Homo sapiens: one gene and its partner. The protein of the gene in region 1 interacts with the protein of each later gene in a pairwise test. Each region holds a gene or a part of one and is shown in the gene's direction. Other genes may lie near its edges.

What was found. Proteins that work in one complex are often made in the same cells at the same time.
Region 2: the proteins of FAM9C (region 1) and ABI2 interact in binary tests that used the Homo sapiens proteins (3 or more experiments, as listed by UniProt).

Annotation. Positions count from the first base shown.
Region 1 is NC_000023.11:13,041,621-13,048,877, reverse strand, and holds the start of FAM9C (protein FAM9C), read left to right. Parts: upstream 1-4,257; 5' UTR 4,258-4,338; exon of another isoform or gene 4,339-4,435; coding exon of another isoform or gene 4,436-4,679; intron 4,680-5,020; coding exon of another isoform or gene 5,021-5,088; coding exon 5,089-5,149; intron 5,150-5,629; coding exon 5,630-5,750; intron 5,751-5,928; coding exon 5,929-5,960; intron 5,961-7,257.
Region 2 is NC_000002.12:203,331,382-203,338,408, forward strand, and holds part of ABI2 (abl interactor 2), read left to right. Parts: intron 1-7,027. UniProt on the Homo sapiens protein: Regulator of actin cytoskeleton dynamics underlying cell motility and adhesion. Functions as a component of the WAVE complex, which activates actin nucleating machinery Arp2/3 to drive lamellipodia formation.

The DNA of each region.
Region 1 (7,257 bases):
TACTGGTATGTCTTGTTAATGATTAGGCTTGTATGGCACATCAATTCCATTCTGCAAGAGCAGGAAAGATGAACAATGTGTTAGGCTTGAGTTTCTCAAACAAGGGGTTTTGAGAAACATAGGGCATTATTAATTTTATATTAAGGCAACCTATTAAGGATCTGAGGCAACTCCTTGTCTTGGGCTTGTTGTTAAAGGTTCAAACTCTTAATTAAATGCATGACCTTGTATAATGAGTTTAGTTTTCAAATTTAGAATCTCTCTCCTCTCCCAGATTGCTGGGAGGAACATATGGCCATGTATATAATGTGCCTGGCACAAAGGGAACACTCATTGAATGTCAGCTCTTCATTTGCTGGAGCCAATCCAACATGTAACATCAACAGTTGACTCAGATGTACTCTGGGATAAATTGTTGTGCAGTTGTCTGTCTTACTCAGGGCATGGGCACAGAGTGCAAAAAGGAGATTACTCTAGCTAAGAAAGCCCTAGCTAATCAAACAGTTACCATAGACCACGGTGTGTCAATCTCAACACTGTTGGCATTGGGAGCCAGATAATTCTTTGTGGTGGGGCTGTCCTGTGCATTGTAGGATGTTTAGCAGCATCCCTGGCTTCTACCCACAAGATTCCAGTAGCACCCCCATCCCCAGCTATAAAAACCAAAAATACCTCCAGACATTGCCAACTGTCTCCTGGGTGGGGGGTAAATCGCCTCCAGTTGAGAACACCAACTTAGATGATAACCTTCAGTCCTGGAGACCTGGTAGCTTGTCCTGAGAATCAAAGGAAAGAAGGTGAGTGAAAATGAAATTACCTGGTGGCTTGTAAAGTCCAAACCCTGGAATTCTCAGTGCTGCCTGCACTTTTCTATCATCTGGGGAGATTTCACCGTCCTGAGGCCCAGGCCAAACTCCAACACAGTTAATCAGAAACTTAGTGGGTAGGATGGAGGCAGCAGTGTGTTTTGAAATTTCCTGAGTGATTCCAGGAGACGCCAGGGTGGGGCCCCTCTGCTCTAAGCTGAGATGTAATTCTCAGGACTGGGTGGTAGACTTTGCCATTTGATGAGAGGGTCTGAGCCTATGTCTCTACATGTATGCACAGCATTAATTCACGTATAGCAAACACAGCATTTGCTGACGGCCCACCATGTGCCAGCCATGGCGCTGAGTGCTGGAGAAGCAAAGTTGACAAAGACCTGCCCTTGAAGGAATTATAATCTAATTGGAGAGAGTCTTGAAAAGCCCACTGAGAAGGGCCCTGATAGAGTTTGCACAGAGAAGATCATAGGTGAGGGTATTTGTGCAGAGTACATCAGATAAGCCTTTCTGAAAGACATGAATGTTTTCATTCATTCTTAAACAGCTGGAGCCTAGAATTTGCTGCTTCATTCGAGTATAAACTTTTGCTAAGAGTCTAAGAATTGGAGAAAAGGCTGAAATGTGAATGAACATGAAGCCCTCAAACGTCTGGAGGATTATCAGCAGAGAAACTTCCATCTCCTGTGCTACCAGCCCTGTCTGATAAATGAGCAATTTGATTGGCTATTAGAGCGTAAATCACTAATTCAGGCTACAGAGTATGGATGTATACAGTCTTTAACCCAGTGATCACATCTTAGATTTCTAGATGTTTTCAAAATGAACAATTGTTGTTGCCATTTGATGAGAGGGTCTGAGCCTATGTCTCTACATGTATGCACAGCATACATGTTGTTTTCCAACATTTTATTATTAGAAATTTCAAATACACAGAAAAGTTGAAAGAATTTCATGGAAAACATTCATGTTCCCATCACCTAGATTCTATCATTGACATCTGGCCATACTGTTGTTGCTTATCACATATCTAGCCATCTGTTTGTCCCTCTGTCTGTCTATGAATCCAAGCAGTGCATTTCTTTCAGTTAGTTCTTAATGACAGCAATAGAAGAGTGAGGGCTGCTTTGAAAATTGGTGTTATTTCTACATTTGTTATGAAGCATTATCCTTACTTGTCAGTCAATTCACATAGGGTGGAGTAGGGTGTTGGGGGTAGGAGGGGGTTACACCTCCAGTTATTAGAAACCAATTCTCTAAATTAAAGTACTTATTCTAATAACTCTTGAGAAATCTCCTTTAAATTTGCTTAAACATTTCCTGTGGTCTTTGTAGATAACCTCTAGTGGGAAAAAAAAAAAATTGAAGTGACCATGTTTGCCCTAAAGGCTTTGGTTAGTTCACAAAACCTGTTTCCGCAACCCAGAGTTGCTTCAAATAGACTTCCTCCCTTTACAAAGGCTTAATGATTTGTGTATTGAGTTGTTTCTTTCTGGGAGACATCTCACAAATACTCCAGTTGGGAAAAAGAGATAAATTGCTCCATCCAAAGTTTAAAAGAATTTCTTCAGGGTTTTGTAACTTGGACACTTGGTGTTCTGAAAAGAATGTCTTTGTGCCTATTTAAAATTGCAGAATCCTTTTCAGTTTGTTTCTAGGCTGTTATGCCAAAGAAGTAGCTCTGTAATCCCCATTTGTCTTCACCTGACATCAAATTCCACTTTGTGATGGAGAATTGTTCCTTGATTTGACATTCTTTTAAAGAAAAATGAGCCAGCATTGAATTCTTAGCTGAATACCAGTAGTTGGTGTATGTGTGTATGTGTTTCCAATTATAGACAGAACCTGGTATAGTACTTTCAGCTGAAATCTTTGATGAAGCATATGAAAATTACATTGATCCAGATGGGATAGAAAGCTGTAAGACTGGTTGCACAAAGCCCTCTGCAAGATTTGTCTTCTTTCTTAATGTTACACATCTTAAGCTCGAAAGAGAGAGAAACCTGAAGCAATCATGGCTTAAAATTCCCCAAGATGTCTCATTGGCTAATTTGGGTACCAAGTAGATTGTGGGGAAATGGGGACAGCTGGTGGTATTTAGTGTCAGTAATTAGGGATTCTCTTTAGGTTATAGAGAACTCTTAGATATAAAGGTGAGCTGCCTTGTCAGGGAAAGATGGCTTCCAACCCAGCTGTGGAAATAATCGGGCTGGGCACGATGGCTCAAGCCTGTAACCCCAGCACTTTAGGAGGCTGAGGCGGGCGGATCGCTTGAGCCCAGGAGTTGCAGACCAGCCTGGGCAACATAGTGAGACCTCATCTCTGCAAAAAATAAACAAAATTGGCCAGGAGCGGTGGTTCATGCCTGTAATCCTAGCACTTTGGGAGGCTGAGGCGGGCAGACTGACTGAGCTCAGGAGTTCGAGACCAGCCTGGGCAACACGGTGAAACCCTGTCTCTACTAAAATACAAAAAAAAAAAAAAAAAAATCAGCCAGGCGTGGCGGCGTGCGCCTATAGTCCCAGCTACTTGGGAGGCTGAGGCAGGAGAATTGCTTGAACCAGGGAGGCAGAGGTTGCAGGAAGCCGAGATCGTGCCACTGCACTCCAGCCTGGGGACAGAGTAAGACTCTGTCTCTAAAAATAAATAAATAAATAAAATAAAATTAGCTGGGCATGGTGGGACATGCCTGTAGTCCCAGCTACTTGGGAGGCTGTGGTGGGAGGATCCCTTGAGCGCGGGCAGTTGAGGCTACAGTGAGTAGTGATTACACCATTGCAGCCCAGCCTGGGTGACAGAGCAAGACCCTGTCAAAAAAAAAAAAAAAAAGAAAAAAGAAAAATGAAAGAAAAGAAATGACCACATCATGAGAAATCTAGACATAAAGTCTTTAACTTTGTATATCCACTGCAGAATCATGCAATGCCCAGTGTGAGGGAATGGAGTAGGATAGGAGAAAACTACCTGCCCCTGCTGGGAGTCAACAATTTTCTTAGATAAAACATAAAAGCACAATCCATTGATAAAAAGGATGCAGCTGGGCGTGTTGGAAGCACACAGGACATGGGAGGGAGCCTGGGCTCCACCCGCAGGGTGATGGCCATTCCACCCAAAGGGGCAGGAGTGGCTGGAACGAGCCTGGGGGCAAGGTCCTAGGCCCCGTTCACTTGGCCTCCATTCCTTAGGGCAGGGTCCCCTGGCACTCACCACTCCCGAGTCCTTGCTTCCTTCACCAGGATGAGGAGCTGGAATATCGTGGGGACAGAGGCCTCAGAGAGCCACCCAATGAGTCCACAGCAGCCATGGACAGTCCGTGAGGGGGAGGGTGTGCCTGCAGGGGGCGTGGCCCCATGCCGCCCGCCACCTGCATGCGCACTGGGCCGACCAATCAGCGAGGAGCGCGGGCAGCCGGGGCGGCTGCTGCTCTCGTGAGAACAGAGGACCCAGGCCCTCGGAGGAGCTTCGCGGTGCCAGCCTCTGCAGGTCCTCTGAGGGAGCAACATCAGGGCTCCCTCAGGTGAGACGCCCTCGGTGGGGATGCGGGGAAGGCGGGCCAGAGGCCCTTTGGGGAAGAGGGTGTGAAGGGCGGGGCAGCCAGGCTGATCTGTGAGGAAATGGCCCAGGCATTGTCGCCTGGGGCCTGGGTCAGGGCAGGGAGTTGGAGCTGCCTGAGTGGTCCCCAGGACCCAGGAGGGTCCCGGAGGCCTGTGCATGTGTGCAGCGTTTGGGGGGGGGTCGGGGGGTCAACGTGGGTCCGTCTTGTCTGGCTGCCCATCAGGACGGGATACTTGGGGTCACCAGGGGTCCCCTGGGCGTCCAGGCTGGCGAATGGGCAGTCCCTGCCCCTGTCAGAAACAGGTGCGTACCGGCTCATTCCCATGGAGATGGCTGGGGAGATCCTGTGTCACCCCGCGGCCCTCCCGACTCCACTGGGTCGCTGGGGAACCCAGGGGCAGGGCCAGGCTCTGTCCCAAGGGCACTGCAAGAATCCCGCAGAGGCCGCGGAATTCTGCGAGCTCTGCAGCCAGCCCCGGGGAAGCGCTGGACGGGCCAGGACAGGAGGGGATGATGGCATCTTCTCCGCGTCCCCTCCTGCTCCCACGGGAGACCCGGGGCGCCCTTGAACCTGCGATCCTGATGATTTTCATTTAACACGCCTCGTTTCCTTAGTGTCCTTAGTGTGTCTTTGCACTCACCAGGTTCAGAGGTCGCCTCTAGCTTCCCAGGCCAGTCAGCCACGGAGCCCGTGGGCAGGAAGGGCAGCAGGATGGCTGCCAAGGACCAGTTGGAGGTTCAAGTTATGGCCGCCCAGGAAATGGAGCTTGCAGGTAAACACAGCCCAAGGGGACCTAGAAGAAGGTGCACGCCCAACAGTCTGTCTGCTTTCTGGGCGGGGCGCACATGGGCAGCCCGAGGCCCCCGGCCCCTTCGTGGCTTTGGAGCTCACCGTGCATGTGCTGAGATGCCCCAGGTTTTCAAAGCAGGCTCAAGGGCCTTAGGCTTCCCGTGGGAGGCTCCCCCTCATAGCAGGGTTACAGATGCTCTCAGAGCAGCTCTTCTCCATGGATGCGGTCCTGACATCCAAGGGATCTGACCTGTGAACGTTGTTTACTGGGACTTGAACCCGAAGGGCTTCCAAAAATGCCTCCGTAAAATGGTTAGGAGCCGGCGATTCCATGTATAGCTCTGCGGTAAAGCTTTAATTGGCGGAGAGCCAAAAAAGTCTACAAATAGTACGTTTCTCTATGAAAAATGTCCACAACAGCGTCTTCCTCTAAAAAAGGTTTGTCTTTTTTATTTTAATGCAGGAAAGGATCCAGTAAGTCATGAGCATGAGGAAAGAAAACCTGTTACAGAGACAAAGGAGGGAGATGTAACTGATGAGCATGGGGAAAGAGGATCTTTTGCTGAAACAGATGAACACACGGGGTAAAGTGTTTAAGTCCCTTTTGCCTGTCAGATAAGGTCTTTTAGGAAAAGTCAGCTTTGGATCATGTCATCACTGTTATGTTCTATGCAGAACATTTCACACAAGACATTTCTTCCCAACAAACAAGGCCTTTTGTGTAGCATTATGTTAAAATTGTGTTGCAACTTTTTGTTACAGGGTTGATACCAAGGAGCTAGAAGATATTGCAGGTATGTTTTACGAGCTATTTGTGGTTTATGAAAATTGTTTTCAACCATACAACCCTTACAGTAGGTTATATGAATTAGTGGATGACAAGACTGTCTTAAATGCCTTCTTCTCATATATAGCATTTAATGTAATCTGTTTAATAATTTTTCTTACTTACTTTTTTAATTGTTGATGTGGAATGTGAGAATGCTTCTAATAATGGTGAAGCAAGAGGGGTGGCTTTTCTTTCATACACGTGGAAATTTAATTGTTTGGGGGATATTAGAGGACATTGGAGGAGAAACAGCTCTATTCGTTCCTTTCAGTGTACACACATTAAGTCATATATCAGGTTTTTTTTTAGCTTTTACTTTATGTTTGGGGGTACATGTGCAGGTTCGTTATATAGATAAATTGCGTGTCACAGGGGTTTGGTATACAGATTATTTTGTCACCCAGATTATAAGCATCGTACCTGATGGGTGGTTTTCCATCCTCACCTTCCTCCTACCCTCCAACCTCAAGTAGGCCCAGGTGTGTGTTGTTCACCTCTTCCTGTCCGTATGTACTCAGTTTTTAATATGAGTTTTTCATCTTCCTAATTTAGCTATTGTCACAACTTTCTAATTTTGTTTTCTTTAAAGTACCAGAGAAAATTGAATTCTCTAAAATGATGATTTTCTATTATTATTCCAGTAACAAGCTGTGTAGTAGAAAAGGAAAGACAACTTTTCTACCCAGTGAGAAGCATACAATTGGATCCAAAAACTCATAAACTTTATATTGCCATGTGAAATATTAGTTGCACTGTTATGGGACCATATTTTCAAAAAAGTTTGAGAAAATTTCTGTAGAGATTATGAAGACAATACTCTTATTTTTAAAAAGCTTACTTTAGTTTTCAGCTCTTCTATAGCGATAATTCATATAAGCAGTATATTTGGAAAGCTTTGCTCTGCTTGGTGGTGACAAAGTGCCGGTTTTGTCTAATACAATGAGCATTATAGATGGATACTGTATGTAAAAAAATTTGTATTATGGTGCAGCTCTTTTATGATTGCTCAAAACTATTCTCAGCAATTGATGGTAGATCTCTCATGTGAAACCATGTTTAGGAAAGCATTCCTTGCAGTATTACAGTTTTCTGAAACACTGCACTGTGGATAAAAATGTCATATAAAAAGCTCTCAGAAAATATTTCAAATGTGTTTTGAATGTATTTATCTATTTAAACCTAAATGTTTACACCCATGGACATTGCTTCTTTTATTAAAATATAGTTAATAGCATCAACTATTGATTAAAAATACTTTCTTT
Region 2 (7,027 bases), on another chromosome or scaffold:
TCACTCTGTCGCCCAGGCTAGAGTGTAGTGGCGCGATCTCGATCTCTGCTCACTGCAACCTCCGCCTCCTGGGTTCAAGCGATTCTTCTGCCTCAGCCTTCCAAGTAGCTGGGACTACAGGTGTGTACCACCATGCCTGGCTAATTTTTGTATTTTTAGTAGAGACGGGATTTCCCCATTTTGGCCAGGCTGGTCTGGAACTCCTGGCCTCAGATGATCGACCTGCCTTGGCCTCCCCAAAGTGTTGGGATTACAGGCGTGAGCCACCGCACCTGGCCAATTTAGCCTTATTATAGCATCATGTCTTAGCCACTAGCTCGAGTTAACTAACCCAACACTCATTTTATTGTGTGGAAATGTAATTTTTGCCTATAAAGTAGAAAAAAATCTGTTTATCATGTGTAATAAGTGTTTTTGCTCAGTGTTCTTTTTTTTTTTTTTTTTTTGACACAGAGTTTCACTCTGTCGCCCAGGCTGGAGTGCAGTGGCGCGATCTCAGCTCACTGCAACCTTCGTCCCCCGGGTTCAAGTGATTGTCCTGCCTCAGCCTCCCGAGTAGCTGGGATTACAGGCACGTGCCAACACGCCCAGCTAATTTTTGTATTTTTGGTAGAGATGGGGTTTTGCCATGTTGGCCAGGCTAGTCTCAAACTCCTGACCCCAGATGACCCACCCACCTCGGCCTCCCAAAGTGCTAGGATTACAGGCGTGAGCCACCGTGCCTGGCCCCCTAAGAGTCATTTTTAATAAAAATTTAGATAGTTTCATTATTCTAACCTCTAGAAAATGGGATAGTCAATATTTTTTCTAAAATATGATAAACAGGTATAACTACAGTTTGCTGATATTTATCAGATCAATTTTATTTCTTGCCTATACAAAGGATTTAGTAGTTGGTAGAGACTTTTTTTTGAGATACATGTAAGACCTGCGTTTTTCTTCATTTATTAATATACACACCTAGGCCGGGCACGGTGGCCCACGCCTGTAATCCCAGCACTTTGGGAGGCCGAGGCAGGCACATCACGAGATCAGGAGATCCAGACCATCCTGGCCAACATGGTGAAACCGCGTATCTACTAAAAATACAAAAATTAGCTGGCTATGGTGGCGTGTGCCTGTAGTCCCAGCTACTTGGGAGGCTGAGATGGGAGAATCACTTGAACCTGGGAAGCGGAGGTTGCAGTGAGCCAAGATCATGCCATTGCACTCCAGCCTGGGCGACAGAGCAAGACTCTGTCTCAAAAAAACAAAAATTACACATATAATGCCTAATATGTTTGAAGGTGTCCAGGAATTAAAAATGTTTTGGTTAACTTGGAATCTACGTTTTTACAAATAGAAGAATTTTTATTACAATATAGTTGTCTTAATGTTTTGGTAGATGAAATAACTCCCTATTTGTTACTTCCCTGAAATCTGAAAAGCCAACTTGTTGATATGTACGTTTTTCTTTTTGTTAGATAAAAGTTACTGATTTTTGTGAGTGACAGTTCACATAGATGCATAGTAAAATCTTATTGTTTGGATTAAGAGTAGAATCATCCCATAATATGGATTTATTCAAAAGAGAAGAAATTAAGAACTTACCTTAAATTTTTACCTGAAATATTTTTGAACAATAGGAGACATATTAGTAGCTTTCCTTTTCTTCTCTTAATCAATGTGGATACTCCCAGAGTTCACTAAAAACTTCATGAGAGGTTTACAAGGGAATATTATCAGTCAGTTTCATCAAAAGTAATTACCAAAATGATACAAAGATTTAAAATTTTTATTTAATAAAAATCATTAGAATACATGCTCATTGTTGAAAAATTATTGGAGAATACAAGTAGGTATTATGAAAGAAATGGAAAATTGCCCGATCATCTTGAATATATATCTGGTACTCATACTTTTAAATATTTTTTGTATGCACAACTATATATCAATATTTTTGTAGAAATGGGTTTATGTTCTATATTCTGTACCTTTAAAAGAACCTTTTAAGGATGCTGGGCTTGACTTTTTTTTAAATGGATGTCATATACTATATTGGGAGGAGGTTGGTTATATTTATAGGTCGAGTTCTGTATGTTCTTGCAAATGGGAGAATCTTAGAATACCTAGAATGAAGGAGAAAGAGGTCAGTTGAGAGTAAGGAGACTGAGTAGAATTTGGGAGACTGAATTCCCCATAGATTAAGATGACTCAACTCATTTGAAATTGATCAAGGCTTACCATTCCTCAAGAAATTAGTCCCTAACTCTCAGCAGAGACATTTGGTGAATAGATTTTCAGTGACAAATCAGTCATCTTCAAGACCTTTGACAAGATTGCAAAAACAGGCTAATTTATATTTGAGCCCCTTGCTCTTTTAAACATTTTGTCATTTGTACACTTCCTACACCTTCTTGTCCAAGGAACTTAAGTGACCTCATAATTTCCGTTATTGATCCAGGAAATCCAGTCTCACCTCATTTCACCCTTCCTTGAAGAGCTTCCTGGTTCAAAATTGCTCTTTACCAAAATAATTAATTAATAAACTGTTCATTTATTTTTTCTTTTCTTTTTTCTTTCTTTTTTTTTTTTTTTGAGATGGAGTCTCACTCCTTTGCCCAGGTTAGAGTGCAGTGGCGTGATCTTCGCTCACTACAACCTCCGGCTCCTGGGTTCAAGCAATTCTCCTGCTTCAGCCTCCTGAGTAGTTGGGACTACAGGCATGTGTCAGCATACCCAGCTAATTTTTGTATTTTTAGTAAAGACAGGGTTTCTCCATGTTGGCCAGGCTGGTCTCGAATTCCTGACCTCAAGTGATCCACCCGCCTTGGCCTTCCACAGTGCTGGGATTACAGGTGTGAGCCATCGTGCCCAGCCTCATTTACTTTTTCTTCTTACCTTGGTATGGGTAATGTGAGAATGTATGATAGGTTTACTTTATTTAGAGTCATCTTTTCTCACCCAGAGAATAATATATAAACCAAATTGGTTTACTTATGTGTAAAATATGTAGTAGAGATATTTTTGAGCATGAGGTGCTTTTGGTGTTACTTTTTCTTTTAAAATGCAGGGAATTTAATAGTATGCAGTTTCAGGGTGTGTAAGGTAATCTTTTGGTGGATGAAATATATTTGGTGGATGAATATGCTGTGATTTGCTTACACCCACCCCAAATCCATTTTGCAGCACCCTACTCACTGTCCAGAGATTCTGGGAAAAAAACAATAGAGAAGACAAAGCCAGTCTAGACACCATTTGACTCTACCTTGTGAATATTCTGAAAGTTACATTAGGCTAGTTGTAGATTTTTTTTTTTTTTGAGACAGAGTCTCTGTCGCCCAGGCTGGAGTACAGTGGTGCGATCTCAGCTTACTGCAACCTCTGCCTCCTGGGTTCAAGCAATTCTCCTGTCTCAGCTTCCTGAGTAGCTGGGATTACAGGTGCACGCCACCACGCCTGGCTAATTTTTGTATTTTTAGTAGAGACGGGGTTTCACCGTATTGGCCAGGCTGGTCTCGAGATCCTGACCTTAGGTGATCCGCCCGCCTCGGCCTCCCAAAGTGCTGGGATTACAGCGTAAGCCACCGTGCCTGGCCTAGTTGTAGACTTTTGATAGCTTATGGTTGAATTTTTATGGGATTGGTTAATAGATTGGATTCATGAGGTAGCATGTAGGGCAACACATTCTATTTTGGATTTTTCATTTACTTTGTGTTTCCTTCCAGATACGAAGCTCCTAGAAGATGGAGTCATTTCTTAAAAATTTCTATATTTTCCCATTAGCCGTAGGATGTTCTCCATATACTAGCCACTCATTAAATAGTTGCTGAATGTAAGAAATACAGACTTGAATATGCAAGAGCCTATGCACTGAATTATTTTTATTTTATTACTTTATTTTATTTTATTTTTTGAGACAGGGTCTCACTCTGTCACTCAGGCTGGAGTGTAGTAGCACGATTATGGGTCACTGCAGCTTGCACTCCCAAGCTCAAACAGTCTTCACACTTCAGCTCCCAAAGTAGCTGGGACTACAGGCTTGTGCCACCATGCCCAGCTAATTTTTTTTGTTGTTGTTGTTAGAAATGGGATCTCACTATGTTGCTCCGGCTGGTCTTGGAACACCTGGGCTCAAGCAATTCTCCTGCCTTGGCTTCCCAAAGTGCTGGGATTACACCTGTCAGCCGCCATGCCTGGCCTTGAATTATTTTATAAGTAGGATATAATTACATGTAAATTTACCTTGCAAGTTTTTTCCTATTTGATTTTTTGGTGACATTTATGTTCTGTAAAGTTTTGCAGTACTTTTCATATTTGCATAATTCATGCAAGGAACATAGTTTTGCTTTTTTCTTCTTAAGTAATATACTTTGTAGAAAATTTGGATGAGGTAACAGCTTTGTTTTGAATCATTTACAACATGAATTTTTTCTCATTTGATTTTTAAAGTCAGGTTTATTGAGTTTTAATACATATATGGTACAAGTCACCCTTTTTAGGTGTAAAGGTTTATGAATTACAATAAACTTACATAGTCATGTAACCACCACAATGTAAAATTTTCCTTGTACCCTCTGTAGTCAGTCCTGTCCCTCCACTACTAGCCTTTGGTAAACACTGATATATTTTCTGTCCCTCTAGTTTTTGCCTTTTCCAGAATGCCATATAAGGGGCATTATGTAGTATATAGCCTTTTGTGTTTGACTTCTTGGTACTAGAAGTCCTAATACATTTGAAAATCATCAGTGTTATTGTGTTTTGTCAGTACTTTGTTCCTTCTTATTACTGAGTAATATTCTAGAGTATGAAAGAATCATAATTTGTTCATCCATTCACCAACTGATGGATTTCTGGATTGTTTCTAGTTTTAGGCAGTGGTGAATATGGCTGTAAACATTTGTATACAGGTGTTGGTGCAACCTAAGTCTTCACTCTTTTGGGTAAATTTAAGGGAAAAGATCAACTGTTGTACCCTGGTAACAGTGGATGTATCCACATAGGCTGCATAGGCCAGTGCTTGAACTGCATCTGATCTGAATCTTGGCCGAGCACTTTGTGATCCTCTTGGAATATAAGATTATGGAAGTTTGCGAGGACCTTATGTGAAGCCCTTTCTCAATCTCTTCATCTGCCGAGGAGGCTGTACGTGATAACAGTGCCTCATCACCTCCTAGTTCCCATGAGATGAGGCTCTCTATTGTACCCTTTTAGGTAGTAGCTGCAGGCTGTAAGACTTTAGTTGCAGCATGGCATTGGCTCCTCCGCAACAGAGTGTCATATCTATGTTGTAGTCACCTGGCTCCTTTTGTTTTAGTATTGCTTTACACAAGGGCTGTATCTTTTACTACTATTCCTTCTGCCCTCCATGTAAATGGTAGGCTTTCTGAACCTAACAAGCAGTTGGGCAGGTCTATCACATTGCCTTCTCTTTGCCTTGACAATAAATATCTAATAGTGGGATTATTACCGTATGGTAAATGTGTGTTTAGTTTTATACAAATTGCCAAACTCTTTTCCAAAAACGATGGTACCGTTTTGCGTTCCCACCAGCAAAGATCCAGTTGTTCTTCATCTTTGTCAGCATTTGGTTTTGTCAGGTTTTAAAATTTTAGCTATTCTCTTGTTAGTGATGTCTCAAAGGCCATATATGACAAGCCTACAACTAACATCATACTCAACCATGAAAAGTTGAAACCTTTTCCTCTAAGATCAGGAATAAGACAGTGGTGCCCAGTGTCACTAGTTCTATTTAATCAAGTACTGCAAAGTACTAGAAGTCCTAGCCAGCCAGTTAGGAAAGAAAAATAAACAAAAGGCATCAAAATTGGAAGAAGTTAAATTGTCTCTGTTTGCAAATGACATGATTCCTTATGTATACAAAACCCTAAAGACTCCACCAAAAGACTGTTAGAATTAATTAACGAATTTAGTAAAGTTGTAGGAGACAAGATCAACATACAAAAATCTGTTGTGTTTCTACATATTAACTACAAACGATCTGAAAAATTAAGAAAACATTTCCATTTATAACAGCAGAAAGAATAGAATACTTAGGAATAAATGTAATCAAGGAGGTGAAAGGTCTGTACACTAAAAACTATAAGACATTTATGAAAGTAATTGAAGAACATGCAAATAAATGGGAAGATATCCCGTGCTCATGAATTGGTAGATTTGATATTGTTAACATGTCCATACTACACAAAGCCATCTACAGATTTAATGCAATCTCTATCAATATTCCAATGGTATTTTTCACAAAAATAGAAAAACCCTAAAATTCATAGGAAACCACAAAATACTTTGAATAGCCAAAGCAGTTTTGAATAAGAACAAAGTTGGAGGTATCATACTTCCTGATTTCAAACTATATTACAAAGCTATAGGCCTGGCATGGTGGTTCATGCTTGTTATCCCAGCAGTTTGGGAGGCCTAGGTAGCCAGATCACCTGAGGTCAGGAGTTCAAGACCAGCCTGGCCAGCGTGGAGAAACCTCATCTCTACTAAAAATACAAAAATTATAGGGCATGCTGGCACACGCCTGTAGTCCCAGCTACTCAGGAGGCTGAGTTGGGAGAATCGCTTGAACCCAGGAAGTGGAGGTTGCAGTGAGCTGAGATCATGCCACTGCACTCCATCCTGGGCAACAGAGCGAGACTCTGTCTCAAAAAAAGCTATAGTAATCAAAACAGTGTGTTACTGGCATAAAAGACATGTAGACTAATGGAACAGAATGGAGCCCGGAAATGTAGCCACATCTGTGCAGTCAACTAAGCTTTGATAAAGGCACCAGGTACACAATGGGGAAAGGATAATTCAGTAAATGGTATTGGGAAAACTATATCCACATGCAAAAGAATGAAATTTGATTGTTATATCACACATACAAATTAGCTAGAAATGGATTAAAGACTTAAATGTAAGATCTGAAATTATAAAACTCTTTGGTATGGGTCAGATGTTTGTTCCCTTCAAATCTCTTGTTGAAATGTGATTCCCAGTGTTGGAGGTGGGTCTTGGTGGGAGATAATTGGATTATGGGGGC